Linked DNA regions of Homo sapiens. The protein of the gene in region 2 purifies or fractionates together with the protein of the main gene of each other region. This does not show direct contact. Each region holds a gene or a part of one and is shown on either strand. Other genes may lie near its edges. The genes, in order: SMC2, GPR137B and NCAPH.

Evidence for each region.
Region 1: the proteins of GPR137B (region 2) and SMC2 purify together in Homo sapiens (affinity purification with mass spectrometry; 2 studies listed by BioGRID and IntAct, with this or other methods). This does not show direct contact.
Region 3: the proteins of GPR137B (region 2) and NCAPH purify together in Homo sapiens (affinity purification with mass spectrometry; 3 studies listed by BioGRID and IntAct, with this or other methods). This does not show direct contact.

Annotation. Positions count from the first base shown.
Region 1 is NC_000009.12:104,097,271-104,100,920, reverse strand, and holds part of SMC2 (structural maintenance of chromosomes protein 2), read right to left. Parts: intron 2,476-3,650; coding exon 2,353-2,475; intron 1,278-2,352; coding exon 1,239-1,277; intron 829-1,238; coding exon 718-828; intron 533-717; coding exon 488-532; intron 1-487. UniProt on the Homo sapiens protein: Central component of the condensin complex, a complex required for conversion of interphase chromatin into mitotic-like condense chromosomes.
Region 2 is NC_000001.11:236,141,292-236,145,374, forward strand, and holds the start of GPR137B (integral membrane protein GPR137B), read left to right. Parts: upstream 1-1,247; 5' UTR 1,248-1,331; coding exon 1,332-1,745; intron 1,746-4,083. UniProt on the Homo sapiens protein: Lysosomal integral membrane protein that regulates the localization and activity of mTORC1, a signaling complex promoting cell growth in response to growth factors, energy levels, and amino acids.
Region 3 is NC_000002.12:96,359,661-96,363,310, reverse strand, and holds part of NCAPH (condensin complex subunit 2), read right to left. Parts: intron 3,169-3,650; coding exon 3,062-3,168; intron 2,724-3,061; coding exon 2,601-2,723; intron 1-2,600. UniProt on the Homo sapiens protein: Regulatory subunit of the condensin complex, a complex required for conversion of interphase chromatin into mitotic-like condense chromosomes.

The DNA.
Region 1 (3,650 bases), on a different chromosome or scaffold from region 2:
TGACATATTGTGCCATGTCTTTTGACAGTCAGGAGCTGCAAAGATTACAGAGACAATCCAATCCTCTGTTTCAATACCTTTTGCTTACAAAATACCTTGATAGCAATAATTATAGTGATAGCCCCTGTTATCCTGGAAATTGTTCTCAATGAGGGTGTCTAAGAGTGCCTTATCTTTAAGAAATGTTGTTCCAGTCAATGCTAACTAACTAGGAAAATCCAGACTTGCTTAGCTTAAATAAAGTATTAAAATTCGGCATACCATTTTCTGAAACTATAAAAATTACTCTCCAATATCCTATGACTTAGCAGATAAGTGCATATCCTCTGTAAGCAGAACGCTGAGTTATGGAGTGCCAACTCTAATTCCTTATCTCATCGCAGGAAAAAAACCCCCAAGAAATAGTATCACTATGTGTATGATTTTGGATACATTGCTGACTTTGAAAGACATTCTAATAGATTATCCTCACATATACAGAATATACCTCTTTTAATTTTTGAATGGTTGGAGTAATCTCTTCTTCAAGTATCTGGAAAATAAAGAAAAATCAGTATTTTCGCATGTAAAGTATCATTAAAATTTATTTGAAAGAGAAGTAGCAGGGATGACTATGGAAAACTGAACCAAGGAAAAAAATTTTTCCCTCTTTACAGCAAAAACTCTACATGCAAAATTACATTCTTCTCCGAAAATATTTTATATGAATTAAATTACCGTCTTAATTTCTTTCAGCTTAGCCTCCTTTTTTTCTATAGTTTTCTGTGCAGCTATTTTTTTGTATTCATACATCCTGGTTCCAGCTGCTTCTTCTATCATGGATAAAATCTGGAATGACAATTTTATTAATGTTTAGTATCCAAGACAATGTGTCCAACTGGAATTTACATTAAATATATCATTTTTGCCTTGACCTCACTAAACATCTTACCAAAAGTTGGCCCAAATGAACCATATAGGTTAAATATAGTAATTTCACACAAACCTTTTCCTGTAGGCTTTTTCTGTAGGAATGAATTCTGACATGAAACACCAGCTAAGCAAGACTCCTTTATACAATCAAAATCAATTTTAATATTTGGGCATAGTGCCAAATATTACACAAATATACAACTGTCTTTACTAATCATTCCCAAATAATGTCTCCAAAAATTTTAATAGAATATTTAAAAATTGTCTGAAAGATTAAAGTAATATCTATACCAACTATTTTTAATGTCCATAAATAGTACTCTTACCTCTGGAGGTTTCATATTCAATACTTTTGTAATTCGGCCCTGAAAATAAAATAGCAAACTTACTAAGATAACAAATTACAGAAAATGTTTATCTGTACTGCCATTCATGTTTATCTAGACTGAAGCTGTTGTATCTCAATATACCAATCTTTGGGGGGGTCTTTCCTCTATAATTCTTCTATGATTCTAGAATTTTGGAACTTTGCTATTCACTTTCTCACCAGTGATACAAATTATGGAAGTTATGAAATGATACAAATGAAATAATTCATTAAATGATACAAAGTTAACAAGGATCATGTTTCTGAGACAGTTAACATTAAGTAGAAATATTCAAATTTAAAACAGGTAAATATAAAAAGAAATTTCAGCATAATTAAAAAACTTTTAACATTTCTTTGAATGATAACCCTCCAGGATAATTTCACAAAACAGATGACATACTTCTAGGCCTCAAACAAAATACAATATTTTACATCAATGCCAGAAAACCATTAAATTTATTCATTACCAAAAACAAATAAAGCAAAACACCTGCACACCCAGGTCTCAGAGAATTGTATTACTAGAATGTAGATTCATTTAAAGTAAAGTTTCAACTATGAAGGTGTGTAGTGGAAATATTTTTATTTTGGTCCCACTGAGATGCTCCCATCGACTTTACTATAATTCTCTCAAACGGCAGCTGGATGGGTCAAATGAAGTAATGTAAATGTAAGATAAAATCAGCCTTTACTCCTCATTTGTGTGAGTCTCTAAGAAAATTACTCAAGCTTTTATACTTGAAATATTAAGATGCATTAATCCAATAATTTAAAAGGATATATTATGGCTTTTTTTTTTTTACAGTTAACATGTATTGTTCTTTTAGTGACAAAACAAAAAGTCAACAAAAATTACTTCTAAACATTCTAGAGGAGTCAAAGGTCTATAATCCAGTAGAATATATCAGTGCAAGTAACTAAACCATATTTCTAAACAGATGGCCGGACACAGCACAATAGTAAATAAAAAGTATAAAATCCAAAACATAAAGTACTTCTATTTTAATTGCTTAAAAGTAAAAAATGTCGAAACTATTACGAAAGTGATATAAAGACCTCAAACGAAATACCTGCATGATGAGAAAGTGAGGGTTGTTAACATTAAGGCCAACAGAACAGAAGAGATCCTGTACTCTGGTGTTGTTGGCATTGACTCCATTGATTAAATATTTATTTCTACCACCAATAACCACCTATAAAAGAAAGCAATTTTTTAAATATTAATGTACATGCACACCTTGTGCTAGGATAAACTAAGTATATTAGCTTACGTTTATTTGTTCTGTCTGACTAGCAGTAAACAAAACCAATTCTGCATAAATAGTGGAACAAGTATGACATGGTCAAAAACGCTAACTTGAGTCAGGACAGCTAGTATCTAATGCAAGTACTTTTGGTAACTAGTTATGTAATTACACACAAGCCTCTTACCCTGGCCTGCACCAGACTAGGTCTCCGAGGTAACTTCTAGCTTTATGTTTCCAAGTATATGTAAAACACACTTTCCTAGTTACTTTCTTTCTGTAATTTTTCTAGAGGCTTTCTCTACTTTTCAACAGGAATAGATGTCAGACAAAGTAGCTTAGTATCAATTCTTGACAAGATTCAAAAAGCTATTAATAAAGACATGATTTATGACCATTTAAAAGAAAGGGTAATCATGGAGCTTCAGTATGGTTTCATTAAGTCATCCCAGACACCATACTCTACTATCACACTTAAATTGTCATTTATTGGGTATGATTGTCTCATCTACCAGATTGAAGTCCTTAAAGACAAGCTCTGTTTCTCATTCTTCTAACTGTACATCCCAGTACATTCAAGAACACCCAATATACATCAACTATTTAATAAATATTGAATAAATGTTAGTTCATTTCTTTTCCTGACAGGACTACTAGGTTGGTAGTTCATATATTAATGTATTTGAAGACCCTTCTCTGACAAAAATTTTATAATTTTGGTGAAGATACAAGTTTATGGCCTGAATGAGGACAGGAACAATTAGGTAGATTATTAGTAAGAGACTTAGTGACAGTTCCTAAAGGATAAATATTTGATGGATGCCTAATGACATGGAACAGGATTCTGTCCTAACGTGGCCTACGCTTCTTTTTTTTTTTTTTTTTTCAACCAGAGGCTTCCATTAAAATAGAGGAGAAAATCTGTAAGTGATAAATGATAAGATGGACAGTAAATAGGAGTTGACAACATTTTTAAAAACAAAATCTTGGGCCAGGCGCCGTGGCTCACACCTGTAATCCTAGCACTTTGGGAGGCCAAGGCGGGCAGATCATGAGGTCAGGAGATTGAGACCACCCTGGCCAACATAGCGAAATCCCGTCTCTACTAAAAATACAAAAAACAA
Region 2 (4,083 bases):
ACAATTAGGCACGAAGTGGAGTAAGAAAAGAAATCACAATTACTGGAGCCTCGGAAATCCGAGTTTCTTCTGTTTACCAGAACCGCTTGCCCAGCAATGTTTCCAGAGGGCGCCCGGCTTTCCCTCTTTTCCCAGAGCACTCCCCAGCTCTCCCAAGACAAGGGTGGCGTGGTGCCCCGGGGCAAAGACTAAGTCGCTGTACAGCCTCGAGGAGCGAGCTGCTCAGCAAAAGCAAAAGAGAAGGGCTCTCGGGTGGCGGGGACAGACCCTCCTTCGGCATGGGTTGGATCGGACAAGGGGGGCCGTGTGCCGTCAGCTGCCCCACTTCTCTCTGAAGCCCAGTGGGCTCCATCCACTGACCCGCGGCCCGCGCGCCTCCCGGCACCGGCTACATCGCTGGGAGGTGAGGCGCTGGGAGCGCGTGAGGCTCTCCGGGAGAAAACAGCCCAGCTTGCATCCCAGAGGAGGCAGCAGCCGCAGGCACCGTCTATTTCCTCACTCAGTATACAAATTTGACCTCAAAAATACGAACCCTGTCTTTGGCATGTCTGCATTTAGAAATAAACATCATTCCAGACGCCGGCCAGTTCATAGCCACAGAGTCGTAAAGTTTTATTTTTAAAGGGGGGGACGGAAAGGACTTGTAAAGTTTTTTTTTTAAATTTGTTTTTAAATAAAGGAATTAACTTCTGCAAAACAAGCAATCAGCAGCAGAATGCGCGAGGCCACGAGTGCGATCCCCCGAGGCGCGGGGCGCGGCTGGGAAGTTTTGGGGGCGCGCGGCGCGGTGCCGGGACCGGGGAGGAGGCGCGCGGTTCTGGGGGCGCGCAGTGCGGGAGCGCGCGGCCCCGGGGATGGGGAAGGGGCCGGGGACGGGTAGCGCGCGGCCCCTGGGATGGGGAGGGGGCGGGAAGGGGGGAAGAGACGCGGGGCTCTGGGGGCCCGCAGTCTGGGAGCGCGCGGCCCCGGGGATGGGGAGGGGGCCGGGAGGAGGCGTGCGGCTCTGGGGGCGCGCACTGCGGGAGCGCGCGGTGGCGAGGATAGGGCGGGCCGGGGTTCGCGGGGCGAAGGCGCGCGGTGCCCGGGGGAGGGCGGGCCGGGGCGCGCGGGCCGGGGCGGGGGCGCGCGGGCCGGGGCGGGGGCGCGCGGGGCCGGTCGGCGCGCGGGGGCGGCGGGCGCGGCGCTGCCAATCGCAGACAAAGGCCGTCCCAGTGAATCATGTGGTGCCGGGGGAGGAAGTGCGGCTTGTTTTCTTTCCTCCAGTCTCGGGGCTGCAGGCTGAGCGCGATGCGCGGAGACCCCCGCGGGGGCGGCGGCGGCCGTGAGCCCCGATGAGGCCCGAGCGTCCCCGGCCGCGCGGCAGCGCCCCCGGCCCGATGGAGACCCCGCCGTGGGACCCAGCCCGCAACGACTCGCTGCCGCCCACGCTGACCCCGGCCGTGCCCCCCTACGTGAAGCTTGGCCTCACCGTCGTCTACACCGTGTTCTACGCGCTGCTCTTCGTGTTCATCTACGTGCAGCTCTGGCTGGTGCTGCGTTACCGCCACAAGCGGCTCAGCTACCAGAGCGTCTTCCTCTTTCTCTGCCTCTTCTGGGCCTCCCTGCGGACCGTCCTCTTCTCCTTCTACTTCAAAGACTTCGTGGCGGCCAATTCGCTCAGCCCCTTCGTCTTCTGGCTGCTCTACTGCTTCCCTGTGTGCCTGCAGTTTTTCACCCTCACGCTGATGAACTTGTACTTCACGCAGGTGAGTTTCAGAGAGGCTCCTGGAGGCGCTCACCTGGCGGGGTGGTCCCCGCGGGGCGCCCGAGGCAGGGGCGATGGCAGCCGCGGGGGCGGGTCCGGCCCTAGGGCTGAGAGTGTAGGGAGAAGGCGCCGGCTCTGGGGTCGTCCGAACCCTGTCCTGTTTGCGGGCATTTGTCATAGGAAACCCCCTGCCATTCCCAAAAGGGGCAAGGAGAAGGCAGGGGAGGGCTGGAGGCCGCCGCTCACTCGCTGCCCCTGGCTCCGCATCGTGCGGTGGATTCGGGGCGCTTCTCCGTGCGCAGCGCGAAGCAGCAGCGCCTGCACACGCCAGTTAGTACGGATGGAAGGTGTGCCCCCAAGGGAGGCCTGAACTCTAGAATTTGCCCTGCCTCCCCAGGCACCTAACTCCCGGCCTGGAAAGGTCTTCTGCACGTTGGCCTCCAGATTTGGGCCTGACACTGCTGTTTTGAGCGTTGGCAGGGTGAGACCATGTTGGTTTTGATGAGATGTTTTGAACCTCCGGCTTAGGAGCTCTACAGAACTGCGGCTTACTAACTCATTCCACCGGATTGCTAAACAGCAGGCTGGGGTAACACCCAGCTCCGAGCTGCTGCCGCTCATCAGAGTTACTGTCTGAGCTCATCTGAGAGGCCCCAAGAAAAGGCCATAAAAGCTGACTGGGGCTCTTTTACAGCCACACAAAAATCACTTTATGGGGCATATTATTAAATAAGCTAATGGGAGAGTATGTGAATTAACTTGGCTGCTGCTTTACTGCTGATGGTTGACTTAATGAAAGTGCAGTAATTGTTGAGCACTTTGCAAATACTTTGTATAGCGTTGCACAAAGGTTTAATAACGCGGTGCCGCCGTCATCATCGTCATCATCATCTCTGATTCCCATTAGCTTTCCAAGCACTAAGATGTCCATTTTCACTAGGACTCTGCCGAAGGGGAAGGCGTCAACGGTGTCACCTGGTGAGGGTAATTTCAGAACTGTCGGATGGGCAGAAACCCTGTGCAAGCAGGCATCTCATTCCTTTTAAGTGTCTTTTTTTTTTTTTTTGAGAAAAAGTCACTTATTTAAAAAAAGAAAGAGGCCGTATGCGGTGGCGCATGCCTGTCATCCCAGCATTGTGGAGGCGGAGGCGGGAGGATCGCTTGTGTCCCTGAGTTTGAGACCGGCCTGGGCAACATGGCGAAACTTCCTCTCTACAAAATGTACAAAAATTAGCTGGGTGTGGTAGTGCCCGCCTGTAGTTCCAGCTACTCAGGAGGCTGAGGTGGGAGGCGGAGCCCGGGAGGCGGAGGTTGCAGTGAGCAGAGATTGAACCACTGCACTCCAGCCTGGGTGACAGAGCTAGATCCTGTCTCAAAAAAACAAACGAACAAACAAACAAAAAAAACAAAGTAGGAAAAGGATTGCTCTGGTACAGTGGAAGCCACTGACTGAAAATATGGAAGAAGTACTTTTGGCTAAAAAATAGCATATGTGATATTTTGTAGATAGTATAATCTTTTAAAAATGGGTCTACACTCAGACTTCTTGTAAGTCCAGCGCATCAGCATATTTTCCGGTCGGAGAGTAATGCGTATTGCCTGTCCAAGTACAACCTTTAAACCTGCAAACCAGTTCAGGCAGTCGGCTGCATTGCACAGACACTTGGGTTTTGTAATTGAAATGAGGTGGTTCTAGCAAGATGCAAAAGACAGGTGAGGTGATGTTACCCTAAGAACTGTGACAATGGTGGTATTGCACGTTGAGCTCTTTATATTTGTCCCCTTTTTGGGGGGCAGTGGGGGAAGAGGAAAATGCAGGGAACTGCCACAGCTCTCTGGTAATCACATGCAAATTCTGAACTTAGAGCCGGATTAGGGGCCGGGCTGCACATTTTCTGCACCATCTGCTGGTTGGTGAGTAAATGCTGAGCAAGGGAAACAGTGACCAGGCAGACAGAGCCACTCCGGCCCAGGGGCCCAAAGTCACGGCCCTGTACTCTTTATATCTCCCAGGTCTGCGGGCACCACAGCAAAGGCTTTTCGCCTGAGGGCACAGGGTGGCTGGCTGGAGAAGGTGGCATGTCTCCATCTCTGAGTGCTGGCATCTCAGAGCCTGGCAGAACAAAGCCATTTCTGGCTTAGTGACAAAACTGTGATACTTCTGGGGAGTTATAAAGCCTTTTGTCGCCAACCCAGCTCTGCCTCCCTTCTCCTCCTCTCCCGCTCACCCCCTCTTTCTCTTACACAAACCATTGGAATTACCTAAAGTGGGGAGCTTTAAGAATGACTGTTGCTTGGGCCCCCATCTCAGACCAAGTAAATGAGATTTTTGGAGAAGG
Region 3 (3,650 bases), on a different chromosome or scaffold from region 2:
GGCACTTCCAGTCACACAAATTTAAAAGTTATGCTTATACTATGCTGGAGTCTATTAAGTGTGCAACAGTATATGTCTAAAAAACAATTTACATACCTTAATTAAAAATATTTCATTGCTAAAAAATTATAATGATCATATCAGCCTTCAGTGAGTTGTAATATTTTTGCTGTTAAAGGGTCTTGCCTCAATGTTGATGGCTACTGACTGTCAGGGTGGGTGGTGGTTGCTGAAGGATGGGGTGGCTGCGACAATTTCTTAAAATAAGACAACAATGAAGTTTGCTACATCAATCAACTCTTCCTGTCACTAAAGATTTCTCTGAAGCATACAATGCTGTTTGATAGCATTTTATCCATAGCGGAGCTTCTTTCAAATTCAAAGTCAATCTTTTCAAACACTGCCACTGCTATATCAACTAAGACTATGTAACATTCTAAATCTTTTTTTTTTATCATTTCAACAATGTTCACAGCATCTTCACCAGGAGTAAATTCCATCTCAAGAAAATGTTCTTTGCTCATCCATAGGAAACAACTTCTCATCCATTCAAGTTTTATCAGGATATTGTACCAATGTAGTCACATCATCAGGCTCCATTTCTCATTCTGGTTCTCTTGCTATTTCTACCACATCTGCATACCACATCTGCAATGACTTCCTCCACTGAAGTCTTTTTGAGACAGAGTCTTGCTCTGTCACCCAGGCTGGAGTGCAGTGTACTGTAATCTCAGTTCACTGCAACCTCCACCTCTTGGGTTCCAGTGATTCTCGTGCCTCACCCTCCTGAGTAGCCAGGACTATAGGCCTGCACTACCATGTCTGGCTAATTTTTGTATTTTTAGTAGAGACGGGGTTTCGCCATGTTGCTCAGGCTGGTCTCAAACTCCTAGCCTCAAGCGATCCACCCACCTCGGCCTCCCAAAGTGCTAGGATTACAGGCGTGAGCCATCGTGACTGGCCTCCACTGAAGTCTTGAACCCCTCAAAATCATCCATAAGAGTCAGAATCAACTTCTTCCAAACTCCTGTTAATGTTGATATTTTGACCCCCTCTCATGAATCACAATTTTTTTTTTGTTTTGCTTTTCTGAGATGAGGCCTCACTTTGTCCCCCAGGCTGGAGTGCACTGGCATGATCATAGCTTACTATAGCCTCAGGCCCCCAAGTAGCTAGGACTGAAAAAAAAAGAGTATTTCTATTGAAGTAAACAATATTGATCAGAAAGAAAAACATATCTTGGTTAGTTTATAAAAACAGAATGTGAGGCCAGGTGTAACGGCTCACGCCTGTAATCCCTGTACTTTGGGAGGCTGAGGCAGGATGACTGCTTGAATCCAGGAGTTCAAAGTTACAATGAGCTCCAATTACACCACTGGACTATGGCCTGGGCAACAGAGCAAGACCCTGTCTCTAAAAAAAAATACAAAAAAACAAATAGAATGTGTAATATCAGTCAATTCAGGGAAAAAAAAAAAAAAATATATATATATATATATATATACACATATATATACATATATATGTGTATATATATATATGTATATATATATATATATATCATTAAAATCTTGTGGAAAAACAGGCAAAATAAAGAGGAAAGTATAAAGTCTTAATACACTCCATGAGAGTAGGAGAACCAGTAATGCAAGTAAGCAGAGGATGTGAATGGAATGGTTTACACGAACCACTGCTTACCCTGTCAGCAGGGACATGTGAGAAGAGCCCCAGGCAAATGAAGGAGGCAGTAATCAGGGTGCAACACCAGGTAATTCAGAAGGCTCCATGTGACAATCTCAGAAGGAGCCCCAGCAGCCTGTAGAGCCCTAGGAGACTTCCTGAGGATGTGAGCCCGTGTGTCACCTTGGGCTCGCTTCGACTTGGATCATGAGTAAGGCAACCTCACTGTATAAAGCAATTGGTGAGTAAATCCACAACTTCAATGAGAAAGCCAAGGAATCAGGTGGGCACAGTGGCTCACACCTATAATCCTGGCACTTTGGGAGGCTGAGGTGGGTGGATCGCCTGAGGTCAGGAGTTCGAGACTAGCCTGGCCAACATAGTGAAACCCTGTCCCTGTTAAAACTACAAAAAATTCACTGGGTATGGTGGCAGGCACCTGTAATCCCAGTTACTTGGGAGGCTGAGGCAGGAGAATTGCTTGAACCCAGGAGGGAGAGGTTGCAGTGAGCCAAGACTGCACCATTGCACTCCAGCCTAGGGCAACAAGAGCGAAACTCTGTCAAAAAAAAAAAAAAAAAAAAAAAAAAGGAGAAAGCAAAGGAATCAAGAAATAACTTAAAAACTGTTGAAACTTCACCAAAAAACTACACTCACTGCCCCCCTGAATTTCAGCATGGAGGCTTCAGTATCCAGCATTCTTGCCAGGTAAGGTATTTCCAAGTGTTTACTGTGTGTCCATCATATAAGCCTTTCCTTTTAGCTTTCTTTGCCTTATCTATTTGATTTCCTGGCAACACGCTTTGGCTAACACATACCACTCCTCACATTCTCCCTTTTCCTCAAAGGCACTGCCTAACTGTCATACTATCAGCCACTTGATACCTTGTGTGCTTAAAGGAACCAAGAAATAGGCTTACCCTGGTGCCTGGTTTGAGGTGAAGCTGGACCAGAGTGTCAACATTGTAGTTGAAATCTGTAGGAAGGGTGGTAGCTCTCCAATTCTGGTTCTCCAAAGTGGACTTGGTCAGAATAGTAGCAGCCTATTAATTTTTTTAAAAAAAGTGTTTTAGGCATTTTAACAGTGGGCAAAACATCTTACTTTTTTTAAAGCAGTCTGGGAAGGGTTTGGGCAGCATGAGTCTACCATCAGTCTCACAGTTCTATGTAAAAAAGTGATTTTGCTAGCATTATTCTTTTTATTCTAAATTTGATTCTTTCTGCCACTGAGTTTAGGACTATTTCTTAATAGTGCGTTTAAGGAACAAGGAAGAATGAAACCATCTGTTTGCTCTAACAGTTAAATTTATACGGAATTTTAAAAAATCACATCTGAAAGGGAAAAACGAGTAAGCACAATCCTAATAAATTCAGTACAAACCTTTGTTTTTCTAAAATATACATCAAAGTCAATATCATCTTCAAAGTCAATTTCAAAATCTTTTTTTGTACTCTTCTTTTTGTTTTCTGATTGGGAAGGAGCATCTTCTGCAGAGTGAACACAGACGTCAGCACTTCACTTCTGTGGCCTAAACTATTTACTCATTTCACAAGATCTGCTGACAGCCTTATCAAGGCTTATCAAAACCACAAGGCAGCATTGTGTCTGAGCATCACAACAGTAGGAGTGCTCAATCACACACCCTCTTTTCATCCTAAACTTATAATTTGTGTTTTGGCTAAGAAAACACATCAGAAACATATGCTTGGCCAGGTGCAGTGGCTCATGCCTGTAATCCCAACACTTTGGGAGGCTAAGGCAGGAGGATCACTTGAGGCCAGGAGTCGAGACCAGCCTAGGCAACAAAGCGGGATCCCATCACTATGGAAAATTTAAAAATTAACTGAGCATGCTGGCATGCCCTTGCAGTCCCAGCTATTCAGAAGGCTGAGGTGGGAGGACGCTTAAGCCCAGGAGGTCAAGGCTGCAGTAAGCCATGATTCACCACTGCACTTCAGCCTGGGTGACA